2 separate regions of the Homo sapiens genome follow, and region 2 is linked to region 1. Evidence: fine-mapped expression QTL. A gene starts in region 1. The other region holds a variant in brackets. All regions are shown on one strand. Distances are between the middles of the regions. Region 1 holds the start of EXOSC1 (exosome component 1). Region 2 has its middle 12 kb from the start of RRP12.

The links.
Region 2: its variant is fine-mapped to the expression of EXOSC1 in whole blood (TOPMed, PIP above 0.99).

Annotation. Positions count from the first base shown.
Region 1 is chr10:97,443,096-97,448,470 of GRCh38, reverse strand. EXOSC1 (exosome component 1) reads left to right here and starts at 2,465. Exons shown (of 8, transcript NM_016046.5): 1 at 2,465-2,516; 2 at 2,624-2,739; 3 at 5,160-5,234. The coding sequence starts at 2,486. ZDHHC16 (zDHHC palmitoyltransferase 16) reads right to left here and starts at 2,296. Exons shown (of 12, transcript NM_198046.3): 1 at 2,118-2,296. RefSeq lists a silencer at 2,035-2,244 and enhancers at 2,176-2,755, 2,756-3,336.
Region 2 is chr10:97,410,696-97,416,070 of GRCh38, reverse strand. No RefSeq gene overlaps it. Among named protein-coding and RNA genes, the nearest start is that of RRP12, 12 kb to the right of the region's middle. The variant A/G (reference allele first, on the strand shown) is at 1,958.

The DNA.
Region 1 (5,375 bases):
GCCCCCAAATATTTCCAATCCATGGTTGGATTGGATCAGCAATGTGAAACCCACAGGTATGAAGAGCAAACTTCTTTGGTAAGTGTAAATGAAATGTTTATAAAGCACTTAGCACAATACCCGGCTCATGGAAGTACTCAATAAATATTTGTTGAATGAATGACCTGGAGGGATGCAGAAGTGGAAAGCCTGGCCAGATGTCTATCTGTCCTACAAATACCAGCAAGGACACTCCTGCCAATGTGGTAACACTAAATAAGTGTCTGCTGTTATCATTCTTCCTGATTCATAAAGAGAGAAATACAAACTGTTATTAAAATCATGGCACTTAGGAGCTAGAAGTCGTTTTTGAAAACAAGCCCAACCAGAAATCAGCCCAACCGTGTAAACAGAAAGCTCCTAGACGCACAGATACAGATTTGGGTGAACAAAGTCTGAGGCTAGGGCCTCTCTCCATTAGCTAATGGGGTATGGGATGCCAGGAAAATTACATATGTAGTAAGTGGGCCGCAACTGAACACACAGACTTTTCTTTTTTTTTTTTTTTGAGATGGAGTTTCACTCTTGTTGCCCAGGCTGGAGTGCAATGGCACAATCTGGGCTCACCACAACCTCCGCCTCCTGGGTTCAAGCAATTCTCCTGCCTCAGCCTCCTGAGTGGCTGGGATTCCAGGCATGTGCCACCACGCCTGGCTAATTTTGTATTTTTTTAGTAGAGACCGGGTTTCTCCATGTTGGTCAGGCTGGTCTCAAACTCCCGACCTCAGGTGATGTGCTTGCCTCAGCCTCCCAAAGTGCTGGGATTGCAGGCGTGAGCCACCGCACCTGGCCCAGACTTTTCATCTCAAGAAATAGAAGTAAAGCAAAATTCAAAAAGATGTGTGTAGGGGAGAAGGGGCTAATCTCAGTGAACGGGAGGAAACAGAGCAAAGCGCAGCTTTACTACCACCCCAAGCACAAGCCCGAGTACTCTGATCCTTCAGTAATAGTCACAGGCCATACTGGTCATCTGCCACCAGACTGGAGGAGATTGCTGGCCACAACACTCCCCTCTTCCCATGGCTTTAAGTCACATCTGTTTCCCAATGGGAAAGTCGACTGAGGGGACAGGGAAGGACAGACGGCAAAGCCATCAGAAGTCAGGTGAACTGAGATCAAAGTCGTGGCGAATGTCATCTGGACAAAGACGCTGCTCTCAGGATGTTTGCAATCTCAAGTAGGAGATACCCAACATCAATAAAGAGTAGCATTTTATTCATGTGCAGACCTCCCTTCTGGGCTAACACGCTGAGAAGAAAAAGAGTAACAACTTTATTTTGGGGCTGCTTATCTTTTGATGACGGGCCCACACAACCAGAGTTCGGCTTTTTCAACCAGAGAAAGCTTACTGAAGTGGGGATGAGGGGCCGCGAAGAGGATCGGACCGCAGGACTGGAAGCTGCAGTTTAAAAAACCGGGAAAAGGCCGGAGGCAGTGGCTCATGCCTGTACTCCCTGCACTTTGGAAGGCCGAGGCGGGCGGATCAAGAGATCAAGACCATCCTGGCTAACATGGTGAAACCCCGTCACTACTAAAACTACAAAAATTAGCTGGGCGTGGTGGCGCGCGCCTGTAAGTCCCAGCTGCGCGGGAGGCTGAGGCAGGAGAATCGCTTGATGCCGGGAGGCGGAGGTTGCAGTGAACAGAGATCGCTCCACTGCACTCCAGCCTGGCGACAGAGCGAGACTCCTCAAAAACAAAACAAAAAAACCGGGAAAAGGTTTTATTTCTCAATGACAGCCGCGAGGTGAAACTGCGATGGACTGGAAGTCAAAAACCGTGGGTTCCAGTTTGGGCTCTATCTTAACTATCTTGATCATTTTGGACAAGTCAAACCCTGTCTCTGAATCTGAGGTTCCATATCTGTGAAACAGACGAGTTGGGTCGCTTGACCTCCTTCCCTCCTGCTCTGAGCGTAACGATTGCTCGGAAGGTGCGCTCGGGCTGAGGAGGGCACGGCCCCGCAGGGCGGGGCGAGGAGAGAGCAGGAACCCGCACTCAAGACAAGGCCCCAGGGCAGTGCCCTACCCAGAAAAAGGGACTAGGATGGGGAGCAAGGGCCGAGGCTTCGCCCTTACCTGCCGCCTGCCGACTCCCCAGTCAGCCAAACCGAGCCCCGTAGCCTCTGCCGCCGCTCACTGCCACCCCCTCCGACTCGGCGCCCCGGCCGGGCCCGGCTCAATCCAAACCACCATGGCCCGCCGCCCGCAGCGCCAGGCAGCGGACCCGGACCCGCCGCCAGCCCATCCTCAACCACACGCGCAGGCGCCAGCGTGGACCTCTGAAGTTCCGCCCCCGGATTTGTCCCGGGGTAACCTGGGAAATGGAGTTTACTCGCAAGGATAAAGAGTACCAATTGACACGTGTCTTACTGCGGAACTGTGCCTGGGTTTGGCCAATGAGAAATCGACTTCGTTTTCATCCTGGTTTTGGGACAGCGGCAATCATGGCGCCACCTGTGAGATACTGCATCCCCGGTAAGTGAGCGCTTCCCGTACAGAGTCCTGGATAGGGGCTGAAGCAAGAAGGCTAAACGGCCTACAGCTTCTGGGGGCCCGTGACCGATGCAGCATTTTTTCTGCAGGCGAACGTCTGTGTAACTTGGAGGAGGGCAGCCCGGGCAGCGGCACCTACACCCGCCACGGCTACATCTTTTCGTCGCTTGCCGGCTGTCTGATGAAGAGCAGCGAGAATGGCGCGGTAAAGGAAGCGGCATGCCATCTCCCCTCTGTTTTTCCCTTAGGCTGCCCTTGAGTTCCAGTCCTTAGGCATGGGCACTGCGGACGCGTCTTTAGTGCCTCAGTGGTACAATGTTGGTCTCTTAGTTTCTTCTAGCCGTATCGCCGCTGTGGTGCACTTAGCCACCACACACTAGTTGTGTTGATCTCGCTTGGTTGTGCTGCTGACCCTCGGGGAGGGAAGTTGGGACAAAAGCAGATGCGAACTCAGTATCCCATCCCAGCCCAGCTCAGCCCAGCAGTGAGTTGCATACTGTATGAATGTTGCTTACCTTTCCGACTTTATCTAGCGCCACTATCTCCACCTCACTGACGCAATCTAGTCATACTGTCTTTTCTGTGTTTAAAAGTTATAATCACAGTCTCTGCTTGCCCTTTAAAAATTTTTTATAACATACTAGCTTCTTTCAGTGTCGGTAATGCGCCAAGCTTTCTCCTGCTACAGAGCCTTTGTAACATGCCATCTATCTGGAACGCTTCTATCTTCCTAGGCCTATTTAATTCCTACCTCCTTTAGATAGCTTCTCTACTATCACCTCAGAGAAGTCCTTCTGGACCCACTAATTGAGGAAAGGAGTTTTGTGGGGTGTTTTGTTTTTGTTTGTTTTGTTAAAGACTCACAAAAAACTCTGTTCCTTTTCTTCCAAGCACTATGTCAGCATATGATGAGACACTCAGGTATATGTTTCCTACTAGACTTCTCCCCTGCTTAAATCTAAGTCCGTGAAAGCAGGCCCTACCACCATACCATCCGTATATAGCACAAGGCAGCTCCTCAATAAATGTTGAATGTGTGAGTAATACCTACCTTTCTAGTTTCAGAGATAGATCCAGGATTAGCTCAGGATCATATAAGCAATATTTGAAGGAGCACAATAGAAAGAGGATTCAGAATTAGAACAGTTACGTTCTGGCTAACTTGACTTTGATTCTGCTTTGAGTAAGTAACTTAAGCTGTCTGATTCAAGGGGCTTTCTATTCAGTCATTGTTGGGAATGTTCTTAACAGTCCTGAGTTTGTTCATTTCATAGATATCACTTGAGTATTTTCATGTGTCAGGCACAGCGCTGACTTGGTTTCTGCTATCAAAGGACACAGACACAAATTGTAAACAAATAAATGCTCAAATGAGCATATGGTTACATATGTGGTGGTGCTTTGAAAGAATATTACAGGGCACCTTGAGAACATGTAACAGGCAAACCCATCCTAGTCAGCAGAAGTGACATTTAAGCTGAATCATCTAAAGAGTAGGTAAGAGTCAGGTGGGTGGAGAGAGTGCAGCTCTGGCAGAAAGAATAGGTTGAAGAGAGATCTGAAAGTGGGAAGAATTTAGTAAGTTGGGGAAACTGAAAGAAGGCCAGGAGAGCTGAAGCATTGTGAGCAACGGAGAGATTGATAAAAGATGAGGCTCAAAATATCTGTCTTATACCAACAGCCAATACCATGCTCAAAGAGAAAACTCTGCAAGTATTCACTTAAAATAGAAGAAAACAAGCATAGCCGCTATTATGTAACATTTTTGTGGAAATTTCAGCCTGTGCAATAAAATAAGAAACAGAAGGAAGCAGTATAACTTTGGAGGAAAGAGTAAATTGTCGGCAGGGCGCAGTGGCTCACACCTGTAATCCCAGCACTTTGGGAAGCCAAGGCAGGTGGATCACCTGAGGTCAGGAGTTCGAGACCAGCCTGGCCAACATGGTGAAACCCCATCTCTACTAAAAATACAAAAAATTACCCGAGCATGGTGACAGGCTTCTGTAATCCCAGCTACTCGGGAGGCTGAGGCAGGAGAATCACTTGAACCCAGGAGGTGGAGGTTGCAGTGAACCAAGATGGCACCCTTGCACTCCATCCTAGGCAACAAGAGTGAAACTCCATTTCAAAAAAAAACAAAAAAAGTAAAATTGTCAATGATTATAGGCAATATAGTTGTATACCAAGAAATTCTGAGAGAATCACCAAAAAACTTATTAGAAGTTTAGAGATTTACTACAAAAAAAAGTAGCTGGGCATGGTGGCGGGTGCCTGTAGTCCCAGCTACTCGGGAGGCTGAGGCAGGAGAATGGCGTGAACCCGGGAAGTGGACCTTGCAGTGAGCCGAGATCGTGCCACTGCACTCCAGTCTAGGCGACAGAGCAAGACTCCGTCTCCAACAACAAAAAAAGAAGTTTAGAGATGTATGTCTTCTAGCAGCATTCTGTAGCCTCCTGGTCCTCCTATTTCCTAAAATTTCTAAGGCCTTCTGCTCTGGGCTATAAATGAATCCATACTCCAACTCTCACCTTTATACCAAGACATTCCTATATTACTCTCAAGCCACAAATGCCTTGACCCAAGGGTTAGTCAGGACATTTCAGTTTTTTGTTGTTCCCTCTGTAGCTTCCAGTGGTGTCTGTAGTGAGAGAAACAGAGTCCCAGTTACTGCCAGATGTGGGAGCTATTGTAACCTGTAAGGTAAGTTGGTCCTGACCTCCATGCTTAGAATGCCCATTCAATACTGAAATCATGACCATACCAGAACTGCAGTGTCCAGTATGATAGCCACAAGCTACATAAATTTATTTCTGGCAGGGCACAGTGGCTCACACTGGTAAT
Region 2 (5,375 bases), 32 kb after region 1:
AGACTCCATCTCAAAAAAGAAAAAAAAAGAAAAAGAAAAGAAAACATTATGCTGAGCCAAAGAAGCCAGTTACAAAAGACTGCATGGTTTATGATTTTACTTATATGAAATGTCCAGAATAGGCAAATCTATAGAGACAGAAAGTAGATTAGTGATTGCCAGGGGCTGGCAGGGTTGGGGGTGATAAATACAGGGTGTGGGGTTTCTTTTTGAGGTGCCAAAAAATGTTTTAAAGTTGACTGTGGTGATGTTGCACACATCTGTGAAGATACCAAAAACCACTGAATTGTACACTTTATTTTTTATTTTATTTTATTGAGACAGAGTCTCACTCTGTCACCCAGGCTGGAGTACGGTGTCACGATCTCAGCTCACTGCAACCTCCACCTCCTGGGTTCAAGTGATTCTCCTGCCTCAGCCTCCCGAGTAGCTGGGATTACAAATTTGTGCCACCATGCCTAGCTAATTTTTGTATTTTTAGTAGAGACAGGGTTTCACCATGTTGGCCAGGCTGGTCTTGAACTCCTGACCTTAGTTGATCCACCCACCTCGGCCTCTCAAAGTACTGGGATTATAGGCATGAGCCACCGCACCTGACCAAAAGTTTTAAACAATTATTTTAAAAAACAAACCCACCCGAGCCTACCTACCAGAAGCCTTTGCTCAATGGGAGTGAAGTGGGCGGGTAGCTCTGGTGGATCTAAGTGGCCACTGAGCTGCAGAAAAGCATCCGTCTGCTTTTACCCTAGTCCTGACAGAGCTCAGAACCTCCCATGGCAGCTCCAGGGATGGTTCTTAGGGTTGTGGTTGGGCAAACACATGTGGTTCCCACTAAGCCCAAGGAGAGACATAAAGGAGAGACCAAGGAGAGGCTTCTGTGGAGAAGGCAGGGGCAAAAGCTGGCTGTAAGGTCTGGCCAGCTGCACCACACTGCCCACCAGCACCTCATCTTCTCCTTTACGGAAGAAGTGACTGGGAGTCCGGGATCCTAGGTCTCATTTCTGATTTTTTTTTTTTTTTTTTGAGATAAGGTCTCACTGTGTCTTGTGGGTGGGAGTGCAGTGGTGTGATCATGACTCACCGCAGCCTGAGCTCAAACTCTTGAGCTCAATCCTCCCATCTCAGTCTCCCAAGTAGCTGAGACTACAAACATGTGCCATCACACCCCGCTAATTTTTTTTTTTTTAGACAGTCTTGCTCTGTAACACCCAGGCTAGAGTGCAGTGGCACGATCTCGGCTCACTGCAACCTCTGCCTCCCGGGTTGAAAGGATTCTCCTTTCTCAGCCTCCCGAGTAGTTGGGATTATAGGCACCCGCCATCATGCTCAGCTAATTTTTTGTATTTTTAGTAGAGACAGGGTTTCACCATGTTGGTCAGGCTGCTCTCGAACTCCTGACCTCAGATGATCCACCAGCCTCGGCCTCCCAAAGTGCTTGGATTACAGGCGTGAGCCACCGCGCCCGGGCTTTTTTATTTTTTTAAGAAATGGGGTCTCACTATGTTGGCCAGGCTGGTCTGAAGCTCCTAGGTTCAGGGGATCCTCCTGCTTTGACCTCCCAAAGTGCTGGGATCACAGGTGTGAGCCACTGCACCCAGCCCTAGGTCCCATTTCTGATTAGGTATGTTCCTTACAATGCAACTAACTTCCCTGATTCCCTGTGTTGGAAACACCTCAGCCACAGGATCTTGGAGAGGTGACAAACTGGACCTTTGAATACCTGGGCCAGGCAAGTATTCTGACCCTAGCCAGCCTGTGAACTTCCCTCCCCAGAGCCAACATGGTCCTTTATAAAAGAAAACAACCTCTGAGAGTGAATGTTTTGAGCTACAGTCACTTGAGGGGGAAAAAAAAGCTCATACCCACAGGAAAGACTGTTCTGCTGCCATGGCAACAAGTCACCACCATAACCAGTTTTAAGCCACTTAAAGACAATTCCTCTCCCTTCAGCTGAACA[A/G]TTTTCCTCAGTGACCAGACATCTGACACCAGCCAATCGGTAACAGCCACACTGGTTGGCCAACCAATCCCTAAACACTACCTCCCTTGATATGTGCCCACCATTGATCTTCAACCTCCTAGCACCTTATATAAGATCAGTGCCCTGCTCCACTCACAGGGATTGCACCTAACAGGCCCAGCTCCACCTCCCTTAAGTAAGTACTGTAGTAAATGCAGCTTTTTGGTTCAGATGTTGAGAGATGGTCTTTTCTTTAGACACACTCGTATTCTGGAATCTTGCCTTCCTGGGAGCGATTGATTCTCACTTCCTCTGTGGTGTCATTGCCTCCATGCCTCTGAGCCTCGTATACCTGTACGCATCATATGCCTCTATGGTGTCACTGGGGAATGAGAAAAAGGCCAACTCCAGGCGTGGTGGCTCACGCCTGTAATCCCAGCACTTTAAGAGGCCGAGGTGGGCAGATCACCTGAGGTCAGGAGTTGGAGACCAGCCTGCCCAACATAGTGAAACCCTGTCTCTACTAAAATACTAAAATTAGCTGGGCGTGGGGGCGGGCACCTATAATCCCAGCTACTTGGGAGGCTGAGGCAGGAGAATTGCTTGAGCCTGGGAGGCAGAGGCTGCAGTGAGTTGAAACTGTGCTACTGCACTCCAGCCTGGGCTACAGAGCTAGACTCCGCCTAAAAAAAAATAAATAAATAAAATAAAATAAAATAAAATAAAAGGCCAACTCTTCTTCTCTACAAGGCACCAATGAAGACTGGATTTCAGACCCCTCATCTGGGAAACTAAGCAGTCCACATACTTCACAACTGTACACGGCAACCGTGCTCACCCCTCATAACCGCTAGCCTTCACGTGTCATTCTACCTCCCCGATACCTTCTCCAATCTGTCCTTCCCTCTTTGCCCCCGCTGCCACATTCTTAGTTTCAACCCTTATGGTTTCTTTCCTGTACTGATGCAGCAGTTTCCGACACATCAGTGACTCAGGTCTTGCCTGCATCTAGAGCAAACACATCGTGTTCTTACTTGCCCCTGTGCCTTTGTAGCTGCTGTGGCCTTGCTTGGCCTGAACAGCCACCCTCAGCTTCCTGGTCAACTCTAGCTCATGCTGTAGCACTCAGCTCCAACGTCACCTCACCTGAAAATTGGCCCTGACTCGCCTCTCAGACATGACTATAGTCTGCCAGGCTCTGGACTCCCATAGCTCCTGACCATACCTGGATGATGGCACTGATTGCCACAGGGATTGTTTACTGCCACCCCAACCAGCCTGTGAACTCTAGATGTGAGAGCTAGGCTGCTTTCATTGCTTGGTAACCAAATGGTTATAAAGAACAGGAATTGGGAGAGGAGTAAATTACAATTATAACTCCCCACTTAATGCTATTGGGAATCTTTCCCTAGCTTTGGTTTCCCCATTTTAAAATGTGGATAATAGGCCAGGTGCAGTGGCCCGTGACTGTAATCCCAGAACTTTGGGAGGCGAAGGCAGGAGGATCATGTGAGGCCAGGAGTTAGACACCAGACTGGATAACATAGTGAGACCCTGTCTCTAATTAAAAAAAGAAAAAAAGAAAAAATAATAATAGGCCAGGCGCGGTGGCTCACCCCTGTAATCCTAGCACTTTGGGAGACCGAGGCAGGCAGATTGCCTGAGGTCAGGAGTTTGAGACCAGTCTGGCCAACGTGGTGAAACCCGATCTCTACTAAAAATACAAAAAAATTAGCCAGATGTGGCGGCATGTGCCTGTGATCCCAGCTACTCAGGAGGCTGAGGCAGGGGAATTGCTTGAACCAGGGAGGTGGAGGTTGCAATGAGCCAAGATCATGCCACTGCACTCCAGCCTGGACGACAGAGCAAGACTCAGTCCCAAAAATAAATAAAAAATAATAATAATAAAATAAAATGTGCATAATAATAGCACCTACCCTATACAGTGGTTGCGAGGACTCAGTAGGATCACACATGTGAAGTGCCAGGTCTATAGAGGCTAATAAATGATAGTTCTTATTACCACAGAGAGCCCCTGACACAAAGGATACATCCATTAAATGCTATTTTCCTCTCCTCTTCTCTGCCACAATGCCCAATCTACTTGGCAGGATGGTATAGTGGTTGGATAAATGATGGACCAACATTTCTGTTATTTTCCTTGATTGCAACCTTCAAAAATTATTGTCCAGGCAAGATAGCTCACGCCTATAATCCCAACACTTTGGGAGGCTGAGGCAGGAGGATTGCTTGAGCCCAGAATATTGAGACCAGTCTGGGCAACATAAGGAGACCTTGTCTCTGCAAAAAATTTAAAAATTAGCTGGGCATGGTGGCATATGCCTGTAGTTCCAGCTACTTGGGAGGCTAAAGTGGGAGGATTGCTTGAGCTCAGGAGGTCAAGGCTGCAGTGAACCGTGATCGCATTCCAGCTTGCATGACTACTGCATTCCAGTCTGGTTGACAGACATAAAAGATATACCTTGGACAGCCCCTCTTAGACACCCTAAGAGCGTTATCTGAACCTCTCTTGTGCCCCTTGCTGAGCTCTGCATAAGTCATGTGTTCACTTGGCAAGCAGATGTATTGAGCCACACACTGTGGTAGGCTCTGATGGCGCCAGAGTAGACCAGACATGGTTCCTGTAATCAGGGGTTTCACAGTCAGATGGTCAGATGAGGGAGGCAGAGAAGCAAAATGCAATTCTATTAATTGAGCATCAGTGAACAATAAAGTTACCAGGGGCTTTAGAGAGCTCTGGGTACAACATCTTCAATGTACAAATAAGAAAACCGAAGAGTTTTGTGCTTGTCTTTTCACCATTCCCCCATAGGTTACTTTCTTTTTTTTTTTTTTTTTTTTTTTGAGACAGAGTATCTTGCTGTTGCCCAGGCTGGAGTGCAGTGGCGCGATCTTGGCTCACTGCAACCTCCACCTCCCAGGTTCAAGCAATTCTCATGCCTCAGCCTCCCAAGTAGCTGGGATTACAGGCGTGTGCCACCATGCCTGGCTAATTATCCCCTGTAGGCTTCTTTTTTTTTTTTCTTTTTTTGACGGAGTCTCGCTCTGTTGCCCAGGCTGGAGTGCAGTGGTGCCATCTCGGCACACTGCAAGCTCCGCCTCCCAGGTTCACTCCATTCTCCTGCCTCAGCCTCCCGACTAGCTGGGACTACAGGTGCCCGCCACCACGCCAGGCTAATTTTTTGTATTTTTAGTAGAGACAGAGTTTCACCATGTTAGTCAGGATGGTCTTGATCTCCTGACCTTGTGATCCACCCGCCTCAGCCTCCCAAAGTGCTGGGATTACAGGTGTGAGCCACCGCGCCCAGCCCTATCCCCTGTAGGTTTCTTAAGGCAGAGCAAGAGTCTTTTTCTTTTATTATTTATTTATTTTTTTTTTGAGACGGAGTTTTGCTCT